Homo sapiens: one gene and its partners. The protein of the gene in region 1 interacts with the protein of each later gene in a pairwise test. Each region holds a gene or a part of one and is shown on either strand. Other genes may lie near its edges. The genes, in order: PROM1, CXCL14, TMEM230 and AIF1L.

Region 1 (7,030 bases):
AAGCCTGGGGCTAGGGATATACTAATGTTGGACGTCCTTCCTTAACGGTCCACAGCACACTTGAATTTTTTTCTACTTTCTATATTCTGTGTTCTATAGTAGAACTCCAAGGGTGGGTTGAAGTGTTTTGTTTCAGTAAGAGAAGAATCCCAAAGACTGAGTGACACCTTATGTGAGTTTCGCTGAAGCATCTTTCATGGTAACAATTAAATCGAGACTTGTTTTCATTCCTGCACACCCACCTCCAGTGGGAACCCTGGCAAGTCTCCTGGATGTTCAGCCCGTCTACAGGCAGTCAGTGAAGAATCATAGTTTTGATTTGGTTTATTTGCAGAAGGTTAGGAAATGACATCCCAGAAACTCTAGGGACATTGGGACACCTTTCTTTTCCACCCAGACCCTCCTAGAGGTCCCAGGGGTCTGAGTTGGAGTGGATTCTAGCTCTGCCTCCATGTGTCATTGTGGAAGTGCTATTTAATGTCCTTGAGACTCAGTTTTCTCACTTGTAGAAGGAGGGAATAATAAGAGCTTTGAGGCTGGGTGTGGTGGCTCACGCCTGTAATCCCAGCACTTTGGGAGGCCAAGGCAGGCAAATCACAAGGTCAGGAGTTTGAGACCAGCCTGGCCAACATGGTGAAACCTCATCTCTACTAAAAATACAAAAAATTAGCTGGGCGTAGTGGCGGGCACCTGTAATCCCAGCTACTTGGGAGGCTGAGGCAGGAGAATCGCTTGAACCCGGGAGGCGGAGGTTGCAGTGAGCTGAGATTGCACCACCGCACTCCATCCAGGACGACAGAGTGAGACTCCGTCTCAATAAATAAATAAAAATAAGAGCCTTGTTTGCGTAGGGTTGTGAGGGTTCAATGAGGTAACAAGGCAAAACATTCACCCTTTGACCACTGTAAACCCTTACTTAAGGGTTTGTGGTTCACTATAATGACCATAATCTTTTCTTATTACCTTAACATTTCCAATGGAAGGAACCCAAAGGTGATTCAGAAGATAACTAAGTGTGGCTCTAATCTGTTAGCTGAGCCAGCTCCACTTAGCTTCCATTGATGACACCAACTGGGCTCTGGATATTAGCCGACACCTCATGATACCTTCTGTACAAATGAGCCCGAATTGGTGCCTCCTTCACACAGCTTGAGACTGTGATTTCCCCCAGTGTTTATCGCCAACAGTTTTCAGGTGTTGCCTGCATTTCAGGACAAAGCTAGGTTTAGGAGGAAAATGATCAGTGCAAAGAGAAGGTGCTAGGCTATTCTAGAAAAGACTCTGGCTGATGCGGTGGCTCACGCCTTTAATCCCAGCACCTTGGGAGGCTGAGGACAGAGGATCACTTGAGCCCAGGAGTTCAAAACCAGCCTGGGCAACACAACAAGACCCTGTGTTTATAAATGAAAAAAAAAATTATTTAATGTAAGAACAAAAGAAAAGCCTTCTGCAAACCAGGACACTAGTACTTACCAAGTGAGGAGCAGTTTGACAACTAATATTGCTTCATGGAGCGTTTCCCAGGAGAATTCTCTTAAATAAGAACCATGAAGTGGGCTGCTTCTGAGTGGCAAACTCAGTTTCATAAACTAGTTTTTTTTGGTCTCTTTTTCTTTTATTTCTATTTATTTCTTAAACACACACACGCACACTGTAATTAGTCCATTATACAGTCTGTGGCTGTTTGCTTTTGTTTGAAGGAAAAGTTAATAGACTTTCATATAAACCTACGTAAGCCTGGATTTTTTTTTTCCAACGATGCTTCTGTCTCCCACAGTCTGCGGAGCAAGTGGAGGCATTTTCATTTCAGGAAATATTGGGTGACTTGTTTCTGAATCTTCTTCCTGGCCTTTCATGGATCACTAGAGGTCACTCGGATTGTGATCTTTCAGCTGCTAGGGAGTTCTTTAGAGAGAGAGAGAGAGAGAGAGAGAAAGAGAGAGAGTGTGTGTGTCTGTGTGTGTGTGTCTGTATGTGTGTGTGTAAACTTACTCTTTCTAGCTCTGAGATGAGAGATCAGGAGAGAAAGTTGCTTCCTGTGAGACCACAAAGGCTTGAGAGCAAACAAACACCAGTGTTGGTCCAGCAGCCCCAGGAACCGGGCAGGATGACCACCCTGCCTCATCCTGCGCAGTCCCCACATCGGCCCTCTATGGCTGTCGTCACCGCCTTGTTGTCTGTCTTTTGCAGATAGACTCAGGGACGTGTAGGCCATGCCCAGGTCTCTACAGCTAGCCAGGGCCAAGCTATGATTTGAGCTATTTCTCCTATTCTCCCAAAGGCAGGTGGGCAAAGAAAAGTTCCCAAAACGGGTGGAAAGACCACAGAAAAATTTGATTATTTTTCCCAGTCTTCACTCTGAAGACTATCAAATTGGCAGAAAGGGGAACAAATAAGAGGCAAGTGTTGCTAGAAACTCTATCTGAAAAGGACAGAAATCTGATTTTCATATGAAATTACCCTTTTTAATGTTAGCAAACAATGTGGAGAAAAAAACACCATGGGGGCCCAACAAAATATGTCTGTGAACCACCTTCTTGCTAGTTCGGCTGTAGATGGTGTTCATTGTGCATGCTCTGTAGATTCTTTGCTGTTGTTGTTGTTTGAGACACAGATTCCACTCTGTCACACAGGCTGGAATGCAGTGGTGTGATCTCAGCTCACTGCAACCTCCACCTCCTGGGTTCAAGCGATTCTTGTGCTTCAGCCTCCTGAGTAGCTGGGATTACAGGCACACACCACCGTGCTCAGCTAATTTTTCTGTTATTAGTAGAGATGGAGTTTCACTATATTGGCCAGGCTGGTCTTGAACTCCTGACGTCAAGTGATCTACCCAAATTGCTAGATTACAGGCATGAGCCACTGCGCTTGGCCAGATTCTTAGATAGAAGTAGGAGGGGTCCGCATGGCTGCACCTCTGCAGCCTAGAGGAGGAAGCAGGTGGATCCCGGGGAATGCTACATAAACAGCAGCTGACCCTCACCTGTGTAGGTTCTGGCTGCATAGGTCTTGTAGAGGGTGCTTGGAGCCCCTTCCCTTGTGTGATGTTTCAGGTTCTTCGGGGGCCAGGACCTTCCTTTTTCTGTGAAGGGGATAGTGCATCATTGACAAACAGATTCCACCTCCTGGGCCAACTTCTCTCTGTTGTCCGGCTGCTCAGAGCCCTGTTGTGTTGTGTTGATTGAAATCTGGAGGTTTAATCCAGACTGACTCAAAAGTACTGTCATCAGTGTGTGATGTCTACTCTGGAGACAGGAGAGTCTCAGATGTCATGTATTGGCCTTCTTTATTTTATTGCTTTATTGTGTTGGGCACCCAGGAAGTTATCATTCAGAGCCCAAATCCTAATGGCCTGAAGAAATGTATCCTCCAGTTATGGTCTCACCTAAGGCCCTTTGTTTCTCTTACATCAGGAGCTTCCAGGATTAGTTTTAGTTACTTGCTATAGTTTCAGTGTCCCCTCCAAAACTCATGTTGAGATTTAATTGCCATTGTGACTATATTAACAGGCGAGACCTTGGACAGGTGGTTAAGTCATGAGAGTTCTGCCTTCATAAATGGATTAATGCCATTATCATGGGAGTGGGCTCCTGATAAAAGGAGGAAGCTCGACCCCATTCCCTGTCTGTCTCTTGCACTCATTTGCCCTTCCATTATGGGATGATGCGTCATGAAAGCCCTCACCAGATGCCAGCACCAGGTTCTTGGACTTCGTGGCCTTCAGAACTGTGAAAAACATATTTTTTTCTTTGTAAGTTACCCAGTCTCTGATATTCTGTTATAGCAGCAGAAAACATACTAAGACACTGCTTAAATTGGCTTGTTTTGCTCATTTCCTGCTTCTGAGGTCTCCAGAGTTCCCTCTCTTCCAGGATAGGATGGATATACTGTCTGGAGGAGAGGCAATGCTAGGCAGGAGGAGAAGAACCAGTGATCCTGTTAGTGTGCCCAGCATCCCTCTGCTCAATAAGGCAAATGTAGATGTTCTTTGGAAATGATTGCCAGAGCCTACAGTCCTTCATAATGTTCAGCTCCAGGTCCTGGTGAGGTGGACAGTAACAAGAGATTGAGCCAGCCCCTGCTTGCACCCTTTTCCAGGGGCCCTTTGAGCCCTTTCGATAAAGAGTTTGTTTCTTTACCGAAAGCATAAAAGGTAGTGCAAGAAGAGGCACACAGAACCAAGCATGTGCACTTTCTAAAGTGAAAAACTTTAGAAGGAATGTCTTGCCTGGCAGATGCCCTGATGTCCTCCGTGCATGTCCTCCCCCAACCTCATGTGTCTGATGCAGCACTGCAGTGAGGCACGGTGGATCCTGCAGGTTCAGAGGGGTTGTGATCCACCTGAAGTCACAGTCGGGCAGGGTGTGCCAGAGTTGAAACTGCCGACCTTCCAGATGGAGTTCACTAGTCTCCCCCTGGCGTATACCTTTTTGGTTGTCAAGGCCATTATCACAGAGTCACTTTAGAGGACACTAGGGCTACTGTTGATGGTTCACCCAGAGAGCCACTTAGAGGCCGTGTGCACTGCCTGATCTTACACCCAGGAATTTGTAGTTGTAACAAGGTCCCTGCGGAACTTCCATTTGCTTCTGTCTTCTGTCCTAGAAGTGGACTTTAGAAAGACTCTTGTGGTAGACATGTGTACTGCTGTGTTGCTGCTGGTCTAATGTCTTCAACACGTATTCTTAGTGACTCTTAACACTTTTAACCTTAGATTGTGAATATTCACAATTCTTACTTGTCATAGTCTGTTTATCCTCTTTATCTTCTATGCTGTTTTTAAAAGCAATACAAACAGAAGCTAGAGTAACCAGTGTTTTGTCTGACACATTCTTCTTGATAAACTTTATGAGGTGTGGTTTATATTCGTCTGTACCTTTAGTCACATGCCTGCTTCTTAGCACAGAGGTGATGAAACCACCCACAGCTTTGTTGGGGGTATTATATTTCTTTATTTTTTTGTTTTTTAGCCCATCACAACATTGATAGCTGATGTTGAAACTGCTTGAGGTAAGTTTGATGCTTTCATTGAAGAGAATCTACAGGACTATAGTTTTTAGTTTTTAGAACATCAAAACATAGCTATTCCTAATACATTGCCACATTAAGTGGGAAATCTAGATCAGCATATTAGACAAGATATTTTATATGTCCAGTCCACCCTCTGTACCTGCAGGTTCCACATCCACCGATTGATTCAACCAACTGTGGATCAAAAATACTCTAAAAAAATTTTTTTTTAAATAACAGTACAAAAATAAAAATAATAAAAACAATACAGTATAACAGCTACTTACATAACACTTACATTGTATTAGGTATTTTGAGTGATCTAGAGATGATATACAGTATGTAGGAGGATGTGTGTAGCGGTCCTGGAACCAATCCCACATGGATCCAGAGGGACGACTGCATGTATACATACGATACAGTGACCCTCTCTGTATATATATGCATTGCTATATAAATGTGTGTGTATTTATATATATATATACACACACACAGTGAGTATGTGGGTGTATATTAAAAAAATAAAATTTTTTTACTTAAAAAGATAAGATTTTTTAAGTAAAAAAATAAGGGCTGGTGCGGTGGCTCACGCCTGTAATCCCAGCACTATGGGAGGCCGAGGCGGGCAGATCACTTGAGGTCAGGAGCTCAAAACCAGCCTGGCCAACATGGTGAAACCCTGTCTCTACTAAAAAAAGTTAGCCGGGTGTGGTGGGGGGCCCCTGTAATCCTGCCTGTAATCTCAGCTACTCAGGAGGCCAAGGCAGGAGAATCGCTTCAACCTGGGAGGCAGAGGTTGCAGTGAGCCGAGATCACACCACTGCACTCCAGCGTGGGCAACAGAGTGAGACTCCATCACAAAAAAAAAAAAAAAGAAAAGAAAAGAAAGTGTTTTTTTAGAGTAAAACAATAAGCCAGGCATGGTGGTACCTGCCTGTAGTCCCAGCTACTGGGGTGGGAGGCTGTGGTAGAAGGATTGCTTGAGCCCAGGAGTTCAAAGATGCAGTGAACCATGATTATACCTGTGAATAGCCAACACACTCATGCACTCCAACTTGGAAAATGTAGTGAAACCCTATCTCTAAACAAACAAACAAACAAACAAAAATATAGAAATCTGTGTACCAACCACGTACCTTGAGTATTATGGACTTAAAATTTTTTCTGGCTGGGCATGGTAGCTCATGCCTGTAATCCCAGCACTTTGGGAAGCTGAGGTGGGCAGATCACTTGGGGTTAGGAGTTCGAGACCAGCCTGGCCAACATGGAGAAACCCCATCTCTACTAAAAAATATAAAAATTAGCCAGGCATGGTGGCAGGTGCCTGTAGTCCCAGCTACTTGGGAGGCTGAGGCTTAAACCCGGGAGACGGAGGTTGCAGTGAGCTGAGATCGCGCCATTGCACTCCAGCCTGGGCGACAGAGTGAGACTCCCTCTCAAAAAAATAAATAAATAAAATAAGATAAATAAACAAAAACCACAAAGTTTTTTTCTATATTGCTATATTTTAACAGATTGCTTTGCAACAAACATATTGCTGTGCCTCTTGAACGAGTTTATATTTTCCTTAGTTCTTAGGCTCCTGGTGGGGACCATTTTAGGATTATGCATTCCTGGTTTTCTCTTTATTAATTCAAAAGCAATTTCTAAAATTGTGTTTAACTTTCATTTCAGCATCAGGATACTCAAAGTGGAAAGGATCACAGATTTTTGGTAGTTTCTGGGTCTACAAGGACTTTCCAAATCCAGGAGCAACGCCAGTGGCAACGTAGTGACTCAGGCGGGCACCAAGGCAACGGCACCATTGGTCTCTGGGTAGTGCTTTAAGAATGAACACAATCACGTTATAGTCCATGGTCCATCACTATTCAAGGATGACTCCCTCCCTTCCTGTCTATTTTTGTTTTTTACTTTTTTACACTGAGTTTCTATTTAGACACTACAACATATGGGGTGTTTGTTCCCATTGGATGCATTTCTATCAAAACTCTATCAAATGTGATGGCTAGATTCTAACATA
Region 2 (5,843 bases), on another chromosome or scaffold:
CCACCCCCGTTGTGGTTGTTACCAGGATTCAAAGAGATAGGGCATGTAAGGCTCCCCGCACAGGGTCTGGCTCACAGTAGGCAATAATTACACCAGTCCTCTATTGTTGCCGTCCTTATGCAGCCCCAGGGAACTTGGAGAGCCCTTGGCTGAGGCATCCAGCCTCTTTGCTGCCCTCTGGTGCTGAGGCTCAGTGTGGTCTTGCGTGGAGGAGGCTGGGATCGTGACCCTCTAGTTCCCTGTGCTCCAACCTGCCTGCTCTGATACACCTGCTGCAGGGGTAGGAATCGTCGGGGAAGGAGCCTTAGCCTCAAGGCCTGGCTTCTTGGCTTCCTGACTGTAATGACAGCTCCACACGTTCCACAGAGGTGATGGTGTTGACAGGTATTTGGGAAATACCAGTTTTCTTTCCCAGCATATTTGTCCTTATTTTTTCAGGACATGGTAAACATTTTATTGTCATCCTAGCTTAATTAAATAGAAAAAAGGTGGCAGTCTAGAATTTTGGTACATTTCAAATATATTTTATTACTTTCCATCTTAGAAAGAATATGAAACCTGCATGCAATGCTAATGGTTTCTGACATGTACATAGCATATAACACAGCAGTACAATGCGGCATATACTGGGGGGCAGTGTGTGGAGGGGGCGTTCTTAAGGGTATATGTACAGAGGAAAGGGCGCATGGTCATCTTAGCTTTCGAAAGAGGACTGCACTGTTTAACATTGAAGAATTACATGGGGAATCACAAATATATTGCTTTAGTACTGCATGTTCTGTTGTGGTGAGGGAAAGAAACATGCTTTGAAGGTTTTCCCTTGTCAACAGAATGTGTGTCTGTAGCTGTGTATTGCGCATGTATTCATATATTTTTAAGTTTTCTCCTAAGGTTTTTGCTGACAGTGTTGGGAACCTCACATGCTTCTGAAGCATTAAATATTGAACCTGTGAACCTTTCAGAAATCCTCAGGTTGGGAAAGACCCCACACCTTCTTTAAGGATCATTTGTCTCGCCATCACAGGATCTTGGAAATGTTTCCTAGGGTGTGTAAAAATTAACCAGGGGGGAATGAAGCACATTTTTCTGGCAACCAAACTTGAGTTCCTCAGAGAACAGATGCAGAGAGACCTGCTCCTGCTTGCCCGGCTACAGGGGCCACTGTGGAGTCACACTGAGGCTGTGACCGGCCATAAGCCCAGGAGAGCCCGTGGCAGCTGTGCCGAGGCGCCAGGACCTCTAAGCGGAAGCTTCCCAAGCTAGGAATGGAGCAACACTGCAATGAAATGTGTCCACCAAGCTCATTGTTCCTCCCGGGCGCTTATAAAGCTCAGATGTATAGTGACGTATGGACAAATACAAAAAAGCATTTTTTAAAAAGGAAAGGCATGAGTTTTCCCCTTTTTGATAAAAAGCAGCCTGTGATGAAGTCTGGAGCACAAGAGAGATGGGTCTCCCATCTGGAAGCCTTTCGCACGCAGCTATAAAATGTAAAAACTGACCGTTGGTAAAAAGTGCTTCATAACAATATATAATTTGTGTCTTATGCCTGTGAGAAAGAAAGGCTTTTTTTTTTTTTTTTTTTTTTTTTTTTTTTTTTTTTTTTTTTAATCTGCAAAGTCCTTTGCACAAGTCTCCCAACTGGTTTGGAGTTTTCCCTTCTGAGGTTTTTCACCCTATTCTTCGTAGACCCTGGGGAGAAAAAACACATGTGTAAGTGGCTCAGGACATGAGGCAGGCCGTTCACAAGATGCTGGCTAAGCGGCTTCATTCACGTCTGGTCTGCAGGGAATGCCCCTGTCCCAGAACTGCAGGAACCCCCAGGAGAAGTGGGAGGGATCCTTCTGAGGATGTGGTCCCGGGGACCATGAAAACTCACACCAGTGTGGCTTTGTCTTTTCTAACCATCTGCAATCTCACTTCTGCAATCTCATTTTGTCCTCAGAGGCCTATGGAACAAACCCGCTTTGCATATGAGGAAACTGAGGCACCACAGACTTAAGATTTGCCCAGTGGCCACCGACTGTTAGTGGCAGGAATGTAGTCTTTCTCTAGCATGGCGGGCTGCTCCCACACCTCCTTGTTTCTTTCCGCGTCTGTACTCAGCCTCTCTATTTAGAGAAAATAGCAAGGGTGGGAGGCATTCCCTTACTTGACTTAGGCTTGTATATTTCTTTGTATTTTGCCCAAATAATGCATGTCCTCCAGAAGAATGCTAGCTCTAGAAGCTGCTTCCTGGAGACAGAAGAGGTGGTTGGTGGGGTGGGGCAGTGGTGCAGGAGGCCTGTGCCCCTCAGTCCCTGCTCCTGGCTGCATTGCCTCATCTCTACTCGTTCCCAGCCCCACCTTCCCCTCACCTCTCAAGCTGTGCCCAGTTAGATATTTTGCTTTCTTCTAGTTCTGCCCCATGGCTGCCCTGGGGCCATACGTTACACTTAGCCTATCACTTTTCTGTCTCGTTCTTGATTTCTGAGTAAGACCACTGAATTATCCATTGAAATAAAATGCCTGACTAGGCTGCTTCCTGTGGTGGCCAGAAGCTCCCTGGAAGCTCTGGTCTCTGAAGTGCACAGAGCTCCTCTGTGTGGCCCCCATGGGCCTGAGCCCACCGTATACCCTTCTACTTCCTCCAACCTAGCTTTGGCATTCTCTTTCTCTCTCTCTCTGTACAAAGAGGACTTCAAACACTTCCTTTATCACTGTTCTATGTTCATTAAGATATTTTCAACTTGTTTCAGGGGAGGGAGGTGGGGAGGGCAGGGACCTCAACACTCTAAGAAAGAGGGGTGAACTAATTTTATAGCAAAGTGAGAGAAGGCCTGGTAGTGAGAGGCTCTCGTTGCTTTTGTTATTGGAATTTTCAGGAAAAAAAAAAGCAGGGCCATGTTTAGACCTGTGGGTGCCTCCTTTTCCAGGCTGCAGCTCAGGTGGAGGGGAGAAGCAAGGTGAGCTAAAGGTTTGAGTATCCCCCAGCAATCAGATCAAGATGCCCTCAGCCTCTTCCATAACCTGCCCATGGGATTAGCCTTCTGCCAGTTTTGATGACACAGGGCCTGGAGGGTGACAGAGTGTGGACTGCGCAGTTCTGGCCTTTGCCACATGAGCTGCCTGGCTTGACCAGAAAGAGGGCTTCATTCCCAGCAGATTTATAGAAAATAATTTATTGCTCTCATCACTTTCTATTTCAAGCAACTGCAGATGAGGCTGTTTTGGAGGCAGCAAAAAAGGCTCAGGTATAGGGGTTGAGCCCGAGTGTCAGCTCTGGGAGAGCTGGTCACAGGGCTGAGCTTGGGGTAGCATGGCTGGGCCAGGTGAGGGGAGGGCAATGCAGGCACCCACTATGGCTGTACCTTCCACCCTGTGAGGGCAGCTGGTGGGGTAGCACCAGGAGGCCTGGTTTGCTGTCCTGGCTTTGCCCTGTGCTCCCAGGCAAGTCACCCCTCTCTTCCATTTAGCCTTGATATCCCCCTCTGCAGCAGGGGTGCTGGCACTAGTTCCTGGGGAAGTCACCTGCATGGTGTGTGCATGCATGCGTGTGTGTGTGTGTGTGTGTGTGTGTGTGTGTGCTTCCTGATCATGCTATGCAGGCAAATGTGTAAACAGACTCTGCGTATCTGAGGAGTGAGACAGGACAGGCTACCTTCGCATGGTACAGGGGAGCTAGGAACTGGATTCTCCCTCCGAGGACAGACATAAGACCCCAGGAAACCAGAGATGGGAAGCCACCTTCTGATTTTAAGGAAACAGTGCCCAGTAAGTACAGGGCTGGTTCAGGGTGCTGGTGGTCTTAACACTGCTGCCCGCCTTGGTTAACAGTGGCTCTGATTTTAAAGAGCCAAACCTGTGGTGCCTTCCAGCACCTGCGAAGGAAGGAGTTTATCAGGTTTCTGGGCAGCAGAGGGAGTGGGGCACCTTGGAGAAGAAAACATGTTTCTGGCAAGGATCATCCTCAGCACCTCATGGTTTTATAGCGCAGTTTTATAGCCAACATACACAGTCACCTAAGTGGTCACATTTCACCCCACTGAAGTCCTCAGAGCTCCCCTGGCAGCCATGCCAGTGCTCACTCTGCCATTTAACAACTTACGTAACTGAAATAAAAAGAGGAATTAAGATTATAATGCAAATATTAGAGTGAGACAGACTTTAGTTTACAAAATGACAAACCTGCCATGCTTGCAAATGGACAAGAGATGGATAGCTAGCTTTGGTAAGTGGTGAGTTCCTTGTCCCTGGGGGTATGTAAGCATTGTCTGAGTATCTGTTTGCTGTGGATGTTGTGGTGGGTGTTCACATATTAGATGGGGCTAGATGACCTGGTGGGGGGGTCCCTTCCCATCCTGAGAGCCACAGCTGGGTCTGGTGGGAAGGAAGGTGAGTAGAGGCGGGGCGTACCTGCGCTTCTCGTTCCAGGCGTTGTACCACTTGATGAAGCGCTTGGTGCTCTGCAGCTTGGGGTGCAGGCAGTGCTCCTGACCTCGGTACCTGGACACGCTCTTGGTGGTGATGCTGAAACGGAGCAGGATGAGGTGGAGGGTTGAGGAGCCTGAATAACATGTTGCCTCTTGTGTGGCCTGTGAGTAGCCCTGGGCTAAGTCAGGGCCCTGAGAGACTGTGGCTTCCTGCCTCCTCTCAAGGGAGCCGACTTGTGTGCTCACTTCCAAGCTGGCTCTTTGGAAGGTTCTGGTTGTCCCCTTATTCTCTGACTCCATGTTAGGGCCTAACCCTGTATGTAGTGAGCAGCCCTCACTTTTCCCCTGGGAGTCCTGAGAGTCTGGGATGGTCTCTCCCACCCCCAACCTCATGCAGTGTGTTGTCTCCAGGGCTCAGGCCTCTTTTGGGGAACAAAGGTCAGAGGACTCCCAGCCTCTCTGAGCCTGGGATCAGGAGGTGGAGAAAGCTAATGCCAGCAAGGTGCACATGCCAAAACCTCTGTCCTTGGATTTGAGGAGCTCATGGCAAGGCTCAGACATGCCCCGCAGACACTCTGATTTCTGTCTCCTCAACCCCAGTTCCCTCTGACCCACCACAGATTGTCCCAGGGCTGGGCATCTCCTGATCCTGAGGCAAAGTCTTGTTGGCCTTGTGGGAGGTCCCAGGTATCTCACCCCTAAGCAGAAGAGTAAGACCTCTCTTCTGCACAGCCTGAAGATCTCAGGCCTCTATCAGCCAATGTCCCAACACCCAGCAGAAGCCTAGCCATGTGGTAGAGAAGCAGGTGTTGTGCAGACTGTAAGGGCCTGGGACTGAATCTCAAATTTGGCTGTGGGACCTTGGGTAACCTCTCTGAATCCAGTTTGGCCATCTGTAAAATGGGTATAATAATAGGACTATCTCACAGGGTTATTGGGATGATTAAAAGATACAATCTTTAGAAAGTACCCAGGACCTGGTAGATGCACAATTAACAGTTACTGTTACTAGTCATTGGTCATGGAAGATGAAGTGGCCAAGGGGAAAGAGTAGCCTTGCTGTGGGGGCTCCAGCCTGGAGGGCGAGGCAAGCCTGCTGCTCAGAACTTCTGAGCACCTCTAGGCCACAGGCATGACAGGAGTTGTGGGGAATAAGAGACCACCTAGGGTATTTGGAAAAGTGCAAGGTGAGAGGTGAGGATGCCACTTCTTGAGGGGTCACAGCCATGCAAGCCATGATGGTAGACTGGGGTGCTGGAATGGGCTTGGAGGGCAAAGGGGGAGACTGGAAGTGAGAGTGGAAAGAGTGAGAAGAGAGGGACAGAGGTCAGCTAGTTCCCCACTGTTAACCAAATGGAAAATGTCATGGCTTATATGGGCTAAGTTCTAGAAGGGACAGGATTCCCATTACTTCAGTCTCCCAGTTGATGG
Region 3 (7,030 bases), on another chromosome or scaffold:
AGACACCGTCTCCAAAAAATACAAACAAACAACAACAACAAAAAAACCCCACAAATTTACGGCAAGAAACTTTACAGATCTTTTGCATTAAAAGGTTGATCTCTATCAAGGGGAAATAGGCAAAATGCTGATGTGAGTGTATTCCATTCTCTGCCCTCTTCTCCCTCCCTGTCAAACAAGAGAATCATTTGAGTATATGCTCCTCTTGCTTTTTCTTAAGAGCGGGAGCAGGGGACAGGCAATGCTGTGGTGTCAGGTGGACCTAGATTTAAGTCCCCATTATTCTACCTAGTCTCTATGTGACTTTGGAAAAATTAAAAGTCAGGGAATCTTGGTGGCAAAATAAACTGGAATGTGATTCTTGGTGAGTGTCTTCACTGTCATTCTACAAGGACAGACCAGACTAGATATTTAATACATAGTGAGAATCTTTTCACTGTGTCAGAGGCATATCTGGTTTTCCATATGCATATGCCTCTGACACAATGAAAATTTAGCAGTGAAGTGTAAATTGCCCATTGCTAGTCTGACATGGCAGCCCAGAACTCCAGTGCACAGCATCTAATAATCCTGAACTCATTGGCTATAATGCACCATTGTCATCTACAGACAATAACGGGTTTTTTGTTTTTAAACTGTAGCTGTGTCAGCGTGTTATGATGCCGTCCCGTACCAACCTGGCTACTGGAATCCCCAGTAGTAAAGTGAAATATTCAAGGCTCTCCAGCACAGACGATGGCTACATTGACCTTCAGGTAAATGCAGAAGAGAACTGACAAGACTGACTGGCTGTGTTTCTGTTAAGTTAGCAGGAAGACCTTCCAGATGGAGATTTTGCTAACTGTCCTTGGGGATTAGAAGGAGCAACAAGAAGAAAACTCAGCTCTGAGACCCTTTCAGCCATAATCGCAGAAGAGGGCCGTGGCAGGGTAGTTTCAAACCAATTCCAGTATTGTCCATTTCTAAGAATTTTTAGTTGTAATGCGAGAGCCTTGTAGTTACAGGTTTTATTTACTTTATTCAGAAACTAATCAGATTGTGTTTTGTTAAGTGGAGTTTTTTGTTGTTGTTTCTTTTTTTAAGGAACTTTAAAATTTTTGTTAGGTGGAATTTTTTTTATCACTGTTTATTTACACTTTAGTCAAAGCCCGTTCACCTTTTAAGGGAGAAACTTATTACTAAAGCCAGCAGATTGTGGGAATCTTCCTTCTTTCCTGATGTCATGAGATCCAATTTATTAAAGGTATTCTTTGTGATAAATAGTAAGTAAAACACAGTATTTATTAAGTTTGTATCCTACCCTAACCATTTATAAACTAGTCAATACTACAGCATCTCCTTTTGCACACTTCCCCTTACAATAGAATGTTCTACGTGGAACTAGGGCCAACGAGGAAGTAGCAGGAAACCATCCTTTATAAATAAATAAATTACTCTTTGGACCCACATTTGAAGGAGAGATAAAAATAGATCTGGAAAGATCTGGGAAGCTTCCAGCCACTTAGGTCAGATACAACGATGAGCCAAACCTTGGAAAATTTGTCTCTGAATCTTAACCTTGAATTGAATTTGTTCATAAGGCAGGTTTACTTGCTATGTGGAACAAACAACTAATCATTTGGAATAAGCTGAAATTGCCTTCTTTTCCTTTTTTTTTTTTTTTTTTGGAGACGGAGTTTTAGTCTTGTTTCCCAGGCTGGAGTGCAGTGGCACAACCTCGGCTCACTGCAACCTCTGCCTCCCAGGTTCAAGCGATTCTCCTGCCTCAGCCTCCCAAGTAGCTGGGATTACGGGCATGCGCCACCACGCCCAGCTAATTTTGTATTTTTAGTAGAGACAGTGTTTCTCCATGTTGGTCAGGCTGGTCTTGAACTCCTGACCTCAGGTGATCATCCTGCCTCGGCCTCGCAAAGTGCTGGGATTATAGGCGTGAGCCACCTTGCCCAGCCTCTTGTTTTGTTTTGTTTTGTTTTTAAGATGTAGTCTTGCTCTGTTGCCCAGGCTGGACTGCAGTGGTGCAATCCTGGCTCACTGCAACCTCCCCCTCCTGGTTCAAGTGATTCTTGTACCTCAGCCTCCCTAGTAGCTGGGGGATTACAGGCATGCACCACCATGCCTGGCCAATTTTCGTATTTTTAGTATAGATGGGGTTTCGCCATGTTGGCCAGGCTGGTCTCGAACTCTTAACCTCCAGTGATTCACCCACTTCGGCCTCCCAAAGCGCTGGAATTACAGGCGTGAGTCACCGCGCCCAGCCTTTTTTTTTTTTTTTTGAGACAGGGTCTTGCTCTTTTGCCCAGGCTTGGGTACAGTGGCACAATCAAGACTCACTGTAACCTTGACCTTCTGGGCTCAAGTAGTCTTTTCACCTCAGCCTCCTGAATAGCTGGGACCACAAGCATGTGCCACCACACCCAGCTAATTTTAAAATTTTTTGTAGAGACAGGATCTCTTAAATCCCCATAAGTTAGTACAGCCATCTATGTGCCAGGCAGTTAATAAATATATATCTAACAAATGAATGACTGTAAAGTCATTTCTGTTTTTGTTTTAAAGAAAAGTTTCTTATGATACAATGAATGATTTATGGAATGAGATTCGAACTAGAGTGAATGACATTCCTCTGAGATTCCTTTGAGTAACTGTGAGAGCAATAACTAGAGCTTCATCTCTTGCCAGTCCCTTTTATTTCTCAGAGCTGCACTGGGTGGTAGGACATACTTAAGACACATAAAGTATCTAGTTTGGTTCTTAATTACCCTCCTGTTTTTGCTGTTGTTGTATTTGAAACAGGCTCTGGCTCTGTCACCCAGGCTGGAGTGCAGTGGTGCAATCTCAGCTCGCTGCCTCTTCACCTCCTGGGCTCAAGCCATCCTCCCAGCTTAGCGTCCCAAGTAGCCGGGACTGCAGGCACATGCCACCACGCCCGGCTAATTTTTGTATTTTTTGTAGAGACGAGGTTTCACCATGTTGCTCAGGCTGGTCTCAAACTCCTGAACTCAAGTGATCCGCCTGCCTCAGCCTCCCACATTGCTGGGATTACAGGTGCGAGCTCTCCTCCCTGTTTTAAAGTGTTTGAGACTGGGCTTGATGGCTTATACCTGTAATCCCAGCACTTTGGGAGGCAGAGGTGGAAGGACTCCCTTGAGCCCAGGAGTTGGAGACCACCCTGGGCAACATAGTGAGACCTCGTCTCTACAGAAAAATTTAAAAATTAGCTGGGCATGGTGACGTATACTTGTAGTCCCAGCTACTTGAGAGGATGAGGCAAGAGAATTGCTTGAGCCCAGGAGTTCGAGGCTGCAATGAGCTGTAATTGCACCACTGCACTCCAGCCTGGGTGATAGAGCAAGACTCCGTCTCTAAAATCATAAAAATTAGGCCGGGCGCGGTGGCTCACGCCTGTAATGCCAGCACTTTGGGAGGCCGAGGCGGGCGGATCACCTGAGGTCAGGAGTTCAAGCCCAGCCAGGTCAACAAGGTGAAACCCTGTCTCTACTAAAAATACCAAAAAAATTAGCTGGGTGTAGTGGCGGGCACCTGTAACCCCAGCTGCTCAGGAGGCTGAGACAGGAGAATCACTTGAATCCAGGAGGCAGAGGTTGCAGTGAGCCAAGATCACGCCATTGCTCTCTAGCCTGGGCAACAAGAACGAAACTCCATCTCAAAACAAACAAACAAAAACATAAAAATTACAAATAATTAATTAAATGTTTGAACCCAGGTATTTGCATTAATGTTCTTCGTTGTCTTTTTCATCTCTATTTCTCTTCCAGTTTAAGAAAACCCCTCCTAAGATCCCTTATAAGGCCATCGCACTTGCCACTGTGCTGTTTTTGATTGGCGCCTTTCTCATTATTATAGGCTCCCTCCTGCTGTCAGGCTACATCAGCAAAGGGGTAAGCTGACGGGCATGTGGGAATAAGTTGTGAGATTTTTAAAATGTTAGCCAAGGCTCTAGTGTGCGTGTGTGTGTGTGTGTGTGTGTGTGTGTGTGTGTGTGTGTGTTTGTCCGTCCCAGTGGTCTGTTTTTTTTGAGACAGGGTCTTGCTCTGTCATCCAAGCTAGAGTGCAGTGGCACAACCTTTACCTCCCTGGGCTCAAGCGATCCTCTCACCTCAGCCTCCCGAGTAGCTGGGACTACACGTGTGTGCCACCACACCCAGCTAATTTTATTTTTTATTTACTTATTTTTGTTTGTTTTATTTTGTGTAGAGACAGGGTTTCACTATGTTGCCCAGGCTGATCTCTAACTCCTGAGGTCAAGCAGTCTGCCTGCCTCAGCCTTCCAAAGTGCTGGGATTGCAGGTGTGAACCATTGCCCCTGGCCAATTTTTTTTCCAATTTTTATGGGTACATAGTAGGTGTATATACTTAGGGGATACATGAGGTATTTTGATACAGCCATGCATTCATAATAATCACATCAGGCTAAATGGGGTATCCATCCCCTCAAGCATTCATCATTTGTATTACATTCCAATTATACTTTTATTTATTTATTTATTTTGAGACAGAGTCAGGCTGGAGTGCAGTGGCATAATATCGGCTAACTGCAACCTCCGCCTCCCAGGTTCATGCTATTCTTGTGCCTCAGCCTCCCGAGTAGCTGGAATTACAGACGTGCGCCACCGCACCCGGCTAATGTTGGTATTTTTAGTAGAGATGGGGTTTCGCCATGTTGCCCAGGCTGGCCTCCCAAAGTGTTGGGATTACAGGCATGAACCACTGTGCCTGGCCTATTTTTAGTTATATATATACATATACACATACATACATACATACATATATATATATTTTGGAGACAGAGTCTTGTTCTGTCACCCAGGCTGGAGTGCAGTGGCAGGATCTCAGCTCACTGCAAACTCCGGCTCGTGGGTTCAAGTGATTCTCCTGCCTCAGCCTCCTGAGTTAGCTGGGACTATGGTGGCAAGCCAGCACACTTGGCTTATTTTTGTATTTTTAGTAGAGATGGGTTTTTGCCATGTTGGCCAGGCTGGTCATGAACTCCTGACCTCAAGCGGCCTGCCCGCGTGGGCCTCCTAAAGTGCTGGGATTACAGGCGTGAGCTACCACGTCCAGCCTTAGTTATTATATTTTTAAATGTACAATAAATTATTCTCTAGTCACTTTGTGCTATCAAATACTAGAGCTTATTCATTCTATGTAACTATATTTTGTACCCGTTAACCTTCCCCATTCCCCCCTACCTTTCCCAGCCTTTGGTAACCATCATTCTACAATATCCATGAGTTCAATTGTTTTAATTTTTAGTTCCCGCAAATGAGTGAGAACATGGAAAGTGTGTCTTTCTGTGCCTGGCTTAATTTCACTTAACATAACGTTCTCCAGTTTCATCCATGTTGTTGCAAGTGACAGGATCTCATTCTTTTTAGTGGCTGAATAGTACTCCATTGCATATATGTACCATATTTTCTTTATTCACTTGTCTGTTGAAGAACACTTTGGTTGCTTCCAGATCTTGGCTGTTGTGAATAGTGCTGTCATAAATATGGAAGTGCAGATACCTCTTTGATAAACTGATTTCCTTTCTTTTGGGTATATACCTAGCTGTGATTGCTGGATCATATGGTAGTTCTATTTCATACTGTTCTCCATAGTGGCTATACTAATTTACATTCCCATCAACATTGTACGAGGGTTCCCTTTTCTCCACGTCCTCGCTAGCATTCGTTATTGCCGTTTTTTTTGGATAAAAGCCATTTTGGCTGGGTGCAGTGGCTCACGCCTGTAGTCCCAGCACTTTTGGAGGCCGAGGCAGGAGGATCACTTGAGCCCAGGAGTTCGAGACCAGCCTGCGCAACATAGCGAGACCTTGTGTCTATATTTTTTAAAAAGCCATTTTAACTAGGATGAGATGATATCTCATTGTAGTCTTGATTTGCATTTCTTTGATCAATGATGTTAAGCACCTTTTCATATACCTATTTGCCATTTGTATGTCTTCTTTTGAGAAATGCCCATTTTTGATTGGATTATTAGATTTTTTTTCCTACAGAGTTTGAGCTCCTTATATATTCTGGTTATTAATTCCTTGTCAGATGGATACTTTGCATATATTTTTTCCCATTCTGTGGGTTGTCTCTTCCTTTGCTGTACAGAAGCTTTTTAACCGGATGTGATCTCATTTATCTGTTTTTGTTTTGGTTGCTTGTGCTTTTGGGGGCATTACTCAAGAAATCTTTGCCCAGTCCAGCATCCTGGAGAGTTTCCCCCATGTTTTCTTATAGTAGTTTCATAGTTTTAGGTCTTACATTTAAGTGTTTAATCCATTCTCATTTGATTTTTGTATATGTCAAGAGATTTGAGGGGTCTAGTTTCATTCTTCAGCATATGGATATCCAGTTTTCCTAATACCATTTATTGAAAAGACTGGTTCTTTCCCCAGTGTATGTTTTTTTGTTTTTTGGTTTTTTTGTTTGTTTTTTTTTTTTTGAGACAGAATCTCACTGTGTCATCCAGGCTGGAGTGCAGTGGCACCATCTCGGCTCACTGCAACCTCAGCCTCCCAAATAACTGGGACCACAGGCATGTGCCACCACACTTGGTTAATTTTTTTTTCATTTTTTGTATAGATGAGGTTTTGCCGTGTTGCCCAGGCTGATCTCGAACTCCTAGACTCAAGCAGTCCAGGAGTACAGTGGTGTGATCACAGCTCTCTGCAACCTCAATCTTCAGGGCTCAGTCGATCCTCCCACCTCAGCTTCCCAAGTAGCTGGAGTTACAGGTGTGAGTCACCATACCTAGCTAATTTTTTTGTTTGTTTGGTAGAGATGAGATCTCATTATGTTGCCCAGGCTGGTCTTAAACTCCTAGGCTCAAGCAATCCTCCTGCCTCAGCCTCCCAAAGTGCTGGAATTACAGGCTTTAGCCACTGCACCCCTCTGACTATGTTTCCCGTTGTGTGTTAATTATGGTCAGTGTGAGGCCCACCCTAGCCTCCCAAAGTACTGGGATTACAGGCGTGAGCCACCACACCCGGTGGATGTAGAATTTTATCAAATGCTTT
Region 4 (7,030 bases), on another chromosome or scaffold:
CACACCTATAATCCTAGCACTTTGGGAGGCCGAGGCAGGCAGATCACTTGAGCCCAGGAGTTTAAGACCAGCCTGGGCAACAGAGGGAGACCCCATCTCTACAAAAAATACAAACATTAGCTGGGTGTGGTGGCATACACCCGTAGTTCTAGCTGCTCTGGAGGGCTGAGGTGGGAGGATTGTTTGAGCCCAGGCAGGTCGAGGCTGCAGTGAGCTGTGATCGTGCCAACAAAGAATAAATAGGGTCGGCCGCATTGAGAAGGTGACATTCGGCCGCATTGAGAAGGTGACATTGAGGCTGGGTGTGGTGGCTCACGCCTGTGATGCCAGGAATTTGGGAGGCCGAGGCAGTCGGATCACCTGAGGTCAGGAATTTGAGACCGAACTGCTCCATATGGTGAAACCGCATCTCTACTAAAACAAAAATTAGCTGGACGTGTTGGTGCGCACCTGTAGTCCCAGCTACTGGGGAGGCTGAGGCAGGAGAATTGCTTGAACTCGGGAGGGGGAAGTTGCAGTGAGCTGAGATCGCGCCACTGCACTCCAGCCTGGCGACAGAGTGAGACTCCGTCCCAAAAAACAAAAATAAAACAAAACAAAAAAGACAAGGTGACATTGAGCAAAGGCTTGAAGTTGGTGAGGGAGAGAACCACGCAGATCTGTGGACTCCAGGCAGGGTGCACAGCTAGTGCAGGGTGCAGCCCAGGGCAATCTTCCCAACCACTGCTGCCGTTCATGCTGTGCACGTGGCCTTGCTCTTCATCCCTGCCTGGTTGGTCTGTGTCTGTCTGTGTGCAATTTGTCTCTAAGGCCAGGGACCATGTCCTTCCACTTGCACCCATCCACCTACAGAGTGGCCCAAGTAAAACTGGATCTCTAGGGCTGGTCGGTCCAGGCTGAGGCAGGATTTCTGGTCAACCAGACCCCAGGGGCTGGGACAGCCCCTCCAAATCTCTCCCCAGAGGTTCCCAGATGTTGGTGCTCTTGTGCCTCCCCAGGAAGGTTCTCTAGTTCTTGGTAAAGTGAAGGAAATGCAGGGTCACTGTGGTGAGTTGGACCTAGGCTGAATGGATTCCATTTAAACATTCAGAGATGGTGAACTTCCTACTTTTATGAAATGTTCTTTTCTGAACTCATGGCAACAGTCAATGGCCATTGTTTAAAAAGTCTTTACTTGGCAAAATAAAAAGTTGGCACTCGTATATTAGTGCGCCCCTCTGCCCCGCCTTTAAAAATGTTTCATGTCTGCGTGACCCCAAAGTCTGGGAATCACTGATCTAATATGTCCCTTCACTGGGCAGATATGGGATCTGGGACCCTGGGAGGTGCCTGGTTTGCTCACAGTCACAGACAAAAGTTAATTGTCCTCCTTTTGGGCAGAGGATGGGGTGAGGGAGCAGTGCCGAAGAGCTATGAGAGGGAGCCAAGAGGAAAGGAAGTCCTCGACAGAGCCAACTAGGAGGAGGGCGGCCTCCCAGGCTGCCGAAGAAGGATCCAGCGTCAGCTAAGTGGAGGCGGGGCCGTGCCCAGTGCATTGCAATGAGGCCTGGAGTGAGGCTGTGGCCAAGCCAGCAAGACCCCATAGGCCCTGGGACTGCCCTCTGCCCAGGTGCAGGAGGACACAGGTCCTGGAGTCAGATAGACCCAGGTTCGAAACCAACCTTCCTTAGCTGTCTGTGAACCTTTTTTTTTTTTTTTTTTTTTTTGAGATGGAGTCTGTGGCCCGGGCTGGAATGCAGTGGCACAATCTCGGCTCCCGGCAACCTCCACTTCCCAGGTGCAAGTGATTCTCCTGCCTCAGCCTCCCAAGTAGCTGGGATTACAGGCACACGCCCCCATGCCCGGCTAATTTTTGGACTTTTAGTAGAGACAGGGTTTCACCATGTTGGCCAGGCTGTTCTTGAGCTCCTGACCTCAAGGGATTTGCTCACCTCGGCCTCCCAAAGTGCTGGGATTACAGACGTGAGCCACTCACTGCGTTTGGCCTGTCTATGGACTTTAGATGTGGTATTTAACCCCTCTCATCCTCATGTTTTAACTTGTAAAATGGGAATAATAGTGGCTGTGAGGATTTAGTGAGATAGCACAGTGTCTGCTACAGCCAATGTTTTACCAAAAGCTACAGGACAGCCAGACCCCTCTCCCAACCCAGTGAGGGAAGCCCTGTTGCCAGGTAGGTTTCTCCTGTGGTCAAGGGGTGCTGAGTTAATGTGGAGAAATTTGAGCCATAGAAGAGGCCATATTCTGCCTCATACTCATAATCTTATCTGTTGCTCATTGAGAGCTGAACTATGAGCCCAGTGCCCAAGGAGTGGGTACTATTGAACCTATTTTAGAGCTAGTAAAAAGGGAGACTGAGATCCAAACCCAGATTGCTTTATAGTCAGTTAGTTCTTGTCATCCTCTATTCTGCTTGAAGCCTCTTAGGAGTTTGCAACAATAGACTAGGAAGGTAGTGAGTTCTCTGTCCTAAGAGATATGTAAGAACAGACTTGGCCATCATGTATTAGGAAGTAGGTCAAGTGATTAATGTGGGTGACATTGCACATCATTTTAAACACCAGCTTTCTGTAATTTCAGGATAAGGACCTTGTCATATTCACCATGGTCTCCTCTGCTCCCTTGATGCTAGCACAGTGAGTGCTGTGTGCACTGTGTCCCCCCAGAATGTTGAATGAGTGAATGAATGAATGAATGAATGAATGAAGGAGCAATGTCCATGTCCAGTGAGCTCAGTAATGAAGAATGGAAGGTCCACTGGCCGGGCTCAGTGGCTCACACCTGTAATCCCAGCACTTTGGGAGGTCGAGGTGGGCGGATCACATGAGGCCAGGAGTTCAAGACCAGCCTGGCCAACATGGTAAAATCCCGTCTCTACTAAAAATACAAAAATTAGCCGAGCATGGTGGCACACTCCTGTAGTCCCAGCTACTTGGGAGGCTGAGGCACAAGAATCATTTGAACCTGAGAGGCAGAGGTTGCAGTGAGCCAACATTGCGCCACTGGACTCCAGCCTGGGTGACAAGAGCGAGACTCCGTCTCAAAAAAACAAAAACAAAAACAAAAAAAGAATGGAAGCTCCAAAGAAGAGGGGTTATTTGCAGAGTTCGAGTGGTAGGAGGGGAACAGGCCCTGTGCTTCCCCATCTGAATACAGGTTCCAGGGCTGCTGAAAGATTAGCCGCAAGATACATAAGTTACCTGGCACTGTATCTGGCAGGTGTTCCCTCATTGGTCGCTTTTTGCTGTAAGGTCAGAGACCAGGCCAGATGAACACCTGCAATCTGCCCACCTTTAAAGAATGTAGGGGCTAAGGATGCAGGCTCCAAATGAGATGGAGCCGAGTTGAAGCTCTGGCTTATGAGCCTCAGTTTCCTCACCTGCAAAATGGGTATAATAATAGTAGCTACTGGCCGGGCGCCGTGGCTCACACCTGTAATCCCAGCACTTTGGGAGGCCGAGGCGGGCAGATCACTTGAGTCCAGGAGTTTGGGACCAGCCTGGGCAACAGAGTGAAACCCTGTCTCTACAAAAAATACAAAAATAAGCCAGCCGTGGTGTGGCGCCCATCTGTAGTCCCAGCTACTCAGGAGGCTGAGGTGGGAGGATCACTTGAGATCGGGAGGCGGAGGTTACAGTGAGCTGAGATTGCATCACTGCATTCCAGCCTGGATGACAGAGCAAGACCCTGTTTCAAAATAATAATAACAATAGCTCCCTCTTGGGACTCCTAGGAGATGTGAAGAGATCACATAGGTAAGGGCTTCACCCTGGAGGCCATTGTTAGTGTCCAATCCTCCCCACCCTGCCCATCTGGTCCTGAAAGGACTCATTTGAGTCTCTCCAAGCATCTGAAGGGAAGGCAGGCCAGAGATTAAAACCCCCATTTTACAGGTGAGGAAACAGGTGAGAGGGTAAGTGTACAGTCATTTTCCCGTTAGAGCAGAGACGACGAATTCACACTCTCACTGGATTTCTTTTTTCTTTTCTTTTTTTTTTTTTTTTAAGATGGAGTCTCTCTCTGTCTCCCAGGCTGGAGTACAGTGGCATGATCTCAGCTCACTGCAACCTCCACCTCCCAGGTTTAAGCTATTCTCCTGCCTCAGCCTCCCAAGTAGCTGGGATCACAGGTGCCCACCTCTATGCCCAACTAATTTTTGTATTTTTATAGAGACGGGGTTTCACTATGTTGGCCAGGCTGGTCTCGAGCCCCTGACCTCAGGTGATCGGCCCACCTTGGCCTCCCAAAATGCTGGGATTACAGGCGTGAACCGCCGCACCTGGCCTCACTGGATTTCTATACAAACTCAAGAAGCAGATCATGATTCTCATTTGGTAGATAAGGCAATAGAAGTGTGGGGAGGGCCGGGCGCGGTGGCTCACACCTGTAATCCCAGCACTTTGGGAGTCTGAGGCGGAGGGGTGGGAGCGGGGGGATCAACTGAGGTCAGGAGTTCGAGACCAGCCTGGCCAACATGGTGAAACCCCGTCTCTACTAAAAATACAAAAATTAGCTGGGCATGGTGGCAGGCGCCTGTAATCCCAGCTACTGGGGAGGCTGAGGCAGGAGAATCGCTTGAACCCAGGAGGTGGAGGTTGCAGTGAGCTGAGATCGCGCCATTGCACACCAGCCTGGGGGACAAGAGCAAGACTTCTTAAAAAAAAAAAAAAAAAAGTGCACGGAGGAATGAATGAGCTCAGGATCACATTCCTAAGAAGTTAATGATGGAACCAGGGGCTTGTCTTTGGAGCTCACAGCTTCTCGGATCTGAAGCTGGGGTGTCTTGGGGGAGGGGCACGGGTCCCAGCATTGGTAATGTAGCTGCTGGCTGGAGGGCTTAGTCACCCGTAGTGAACCCTCTGGGGCCTCCCCAAGCTGCTGGGCAAACTTCCTACCCACAGGGTGGCCAGTGCAGATCTGCCTCCAAGGGGCGACAGGAAGCCGGGGTGAACAAGGGACAAACTGGGTCTGGTCGCACCTGGTTACCCGATAGGAGGGAAGGCCCCCGGACAGTGGGCCCATGTGTGGGTGACTTCTGTCCCCAGTCCCTTGCTCAGCACTGTCCTCTCACCTCTGTAGGAGTTTCTGTGTGACCAGAAGTACAGTGATGAAGAGAACCTTCCAGAAAAGCTCACAGCCTTCAAAGGTAAGCTGGGGCGGGCTGCCCTGCATTTATTCCTGGGGGAGGTGGGCTGGCCCCTCATCCTTGCACACAGGACCCCTCAGCCCCACAGGACTAGGCTGTGGCCCTGTTTTGTCCAGAATGCCCTTCTTCCTGGAGAAGGCTTGGAGACAGGGACCCCCTGAGAGGTGGGGAGAGGCCCCTCCACCTGCCTCCCTGCCCCTGCGGGCCCCGTCACCCCTCGCCTGCAGCCCGGTCCTGGCCCTGCCCCTCTCTCTCCCCTCACTGCCCACGGGGCTCAGGCTGGTTCCCGTCCGCCGCTGCCCAGGCCCCGTCACTCCCGGGCCCCGCACACAATCAGCTCTTTGTGAGCAAGCCTTGCCTCTCCCCCTCCCCAGCAGAGCGTCTCAGGAGCCCCTGCGGAGAATGGACGTTTGTGTCACCGCAGTGGGGCAGGGGGGCAGAGTTTCTGCCCATTGAAACCCGGCAGCACGGGATGAAAAGAAAGCAGGGCCTGGGAGCCGGCGCGGGGAGAGGGGCAGCATAAAGGTCCCTCTGTTTGGGGCCCTGGCGCTTGGTTCCCAGCCAGCACCTCGAAAGGAGAGGAGCCGGGCACATAGGGGGCAGCGCAGACCCACCTTCCCTGCCAGGGGAGGCACTTAGGCGCAGGAGCCCTGGGCTGTCATGGAAAATATCCTGGAGGTTGCATTCCCCTCCAAAGTGTTTGCAGTGTGAGCATCCTCCCGGCTCCAGGGCAAAGAACTTGGCCAAGTGTTCCTCAAATCACTTCCAGTTGTCCTTAGGCTGGACATCTAGGGCTAATCATATTAATAACAGCTGGCATTTGTTGGACGTCGGCCTGTGTGAAGCACTTCTCGTGCGGCGTGGCGAGCTCCCCACATCACCCCAATCGGCCTGGAGGAAGATGGCGCACTTGTTAATGTGCAGATGGAGAAACTCGGGCTTGGAGGGCGGGGTTGTTGGCATGGGGACACATAGCTCGCCTAGGGCAGAGTTGGGACTTGAACTCATGTCGGTCTGGCTCCAAAGCCCCTGCTCTCAACTGTTACGCTATGATGCTTTTTACATGAAGAAGAGAGAAGGGAAATAGTAAAAGACACTCCTGACCCCACCCCATCCCAGCCACCTGTAGGAGAGCTGTGAAAAAGAGAGCAGTCTATTCCCTTCTGTCTGCATACCAGCGTGGCCACTCCCAGGGGTGGCTCTGGGAGGAGGCACGGGTCTCAGGGCTCTGGCACCCTTTCTACTTGTCTTCACTGGAATGTTGGGCCAGACAGGAAGTTACATCATTCACTCATTTGTTCTCCAAATGCGCACCTGTACATGTGCCAGGACCATTCCAGGCCAGGGGCACCATGGTGAACGTAAAAGGCAGCTCCCACCCGGGAGCCTGTGTTCTCGCTCGGGGGGCGGTGTGAGAGGTGGTGGGAGACTAAACAGAGAGCCGGGAAATACAAGGTTAGCAGACTGTGGTAGGTGCTTCAGTGAGAAATGAGGGAGGGAGGACAGGAGTGCTCAGCTGTGGGGAGGGGGTGCAATTTTGAAAGGGTGGGGAGGCCAGGCACGGTGGCTCACACCTGTAATCCCAGCACTTTGGGAGGCCGAGGTGGGTGGATCACCTGAGGTCGGGAGTCCAAGACCAGCCCGGCCAACATGGCGAAACCCCATCTCTATTAAAAATACAAAAATTAGCTGTATGTGGTGGTGGGTGCCTGTAATGCCAGCTACTCGGGAGGCTGAGACAGGAGGATTGCTTGAACCCAGGAGGCAGAGGTTGCAGTGAGCTGAGATCAAGCCACTGCACTCAAGCCTTGGTGACAGAATGAGACTCCATCTCAAAAAAAAAAAAAAAAAAAAAAAGCATAATGGTTAAGAACGGGGGCTTTG

The links.
Region 2: the proteins of PROM1 (region 1) and CXCL14 interact in a protein complementation assay, tested with the Homo sapiens proteins (one study listed by IntAct).
Region 3: the proteins of PROM1 (region 1) and TMEM230 interact in a protein complementation assay, tested with the Homo sapiens proteins (one study listed by IntAct).
Region 4: the proteins of PROM1 (region 1) and AIF1L interact in a protein complementation assay, tested with the Homo sapiens proteins (one study listed by IntAct).

What each region holds. Positions count from the first base shown.
Region 1 is NC_000004.12:15,969,023-15,976,052, reverse strand, and holds part of PROM1 (prominin-1 isoform 1 precursor), read left to right. Parts: intron 1-4,970; coding exon 4,971-4,986; 3' UTR 4,987-5,010; intron 5,011-6,684; 3' UTR 6,685-7,030. UniProt on the Homo sapiens protein: May play a role in cell differentiation, proliferation and apoptosis. Binds cholesterol in cholesterol-containing plasma membrane microdomains and may play a role in the organization of the apical plasma membrane in epithelial cells.
Region 2 is NC_000005.10:135,570,177-135,576,019, forward strand, and holds the end of CXCL14 (C-X-C motif chemokine 14 precursor), read right to left. Parts: intron 4,510-5,843; coding exon 4,396-4,509; intron 1,693-4,395; coding exon 1,677-1,692; 3' UTR 503-1,676; downstream 1-502. UniProt on the Homo sapiens protein: Potent chemoattractant for neutrophils, and weaker for dendritic cells. Not chemotactic for T-cells, B-cells, monocytes, natural killer cells or granulocytes. Does not inhibit proliferation of myeloid progenitors in colony formation assays.
Region 3 is NC_000020.11:5,103,057-5,110,086, reverse strand, and holds part of TMEM230 (transmembrane protein 230), read left to right. Parts: intron 1-641; coding exon of another isoform or gene 642-656; coding exon 657-755; intron 756-3,776; coding exon 3,777-3,899; intron 3,900-7,030.
Region 4 is NC_000009.12:131,106,518-131,113,547, forward strand, and holds part of AIF1L (allograft inflammatory factor 1-like), read left to right. Parts: intron 1-5,079; coding exon 5,080-5,146; intron 5,147-7,030. UniProt on the Homo sapiens protein: Actin-binding protein that promotes actin bundling. May neither bind calcium nor depend on calcium for function.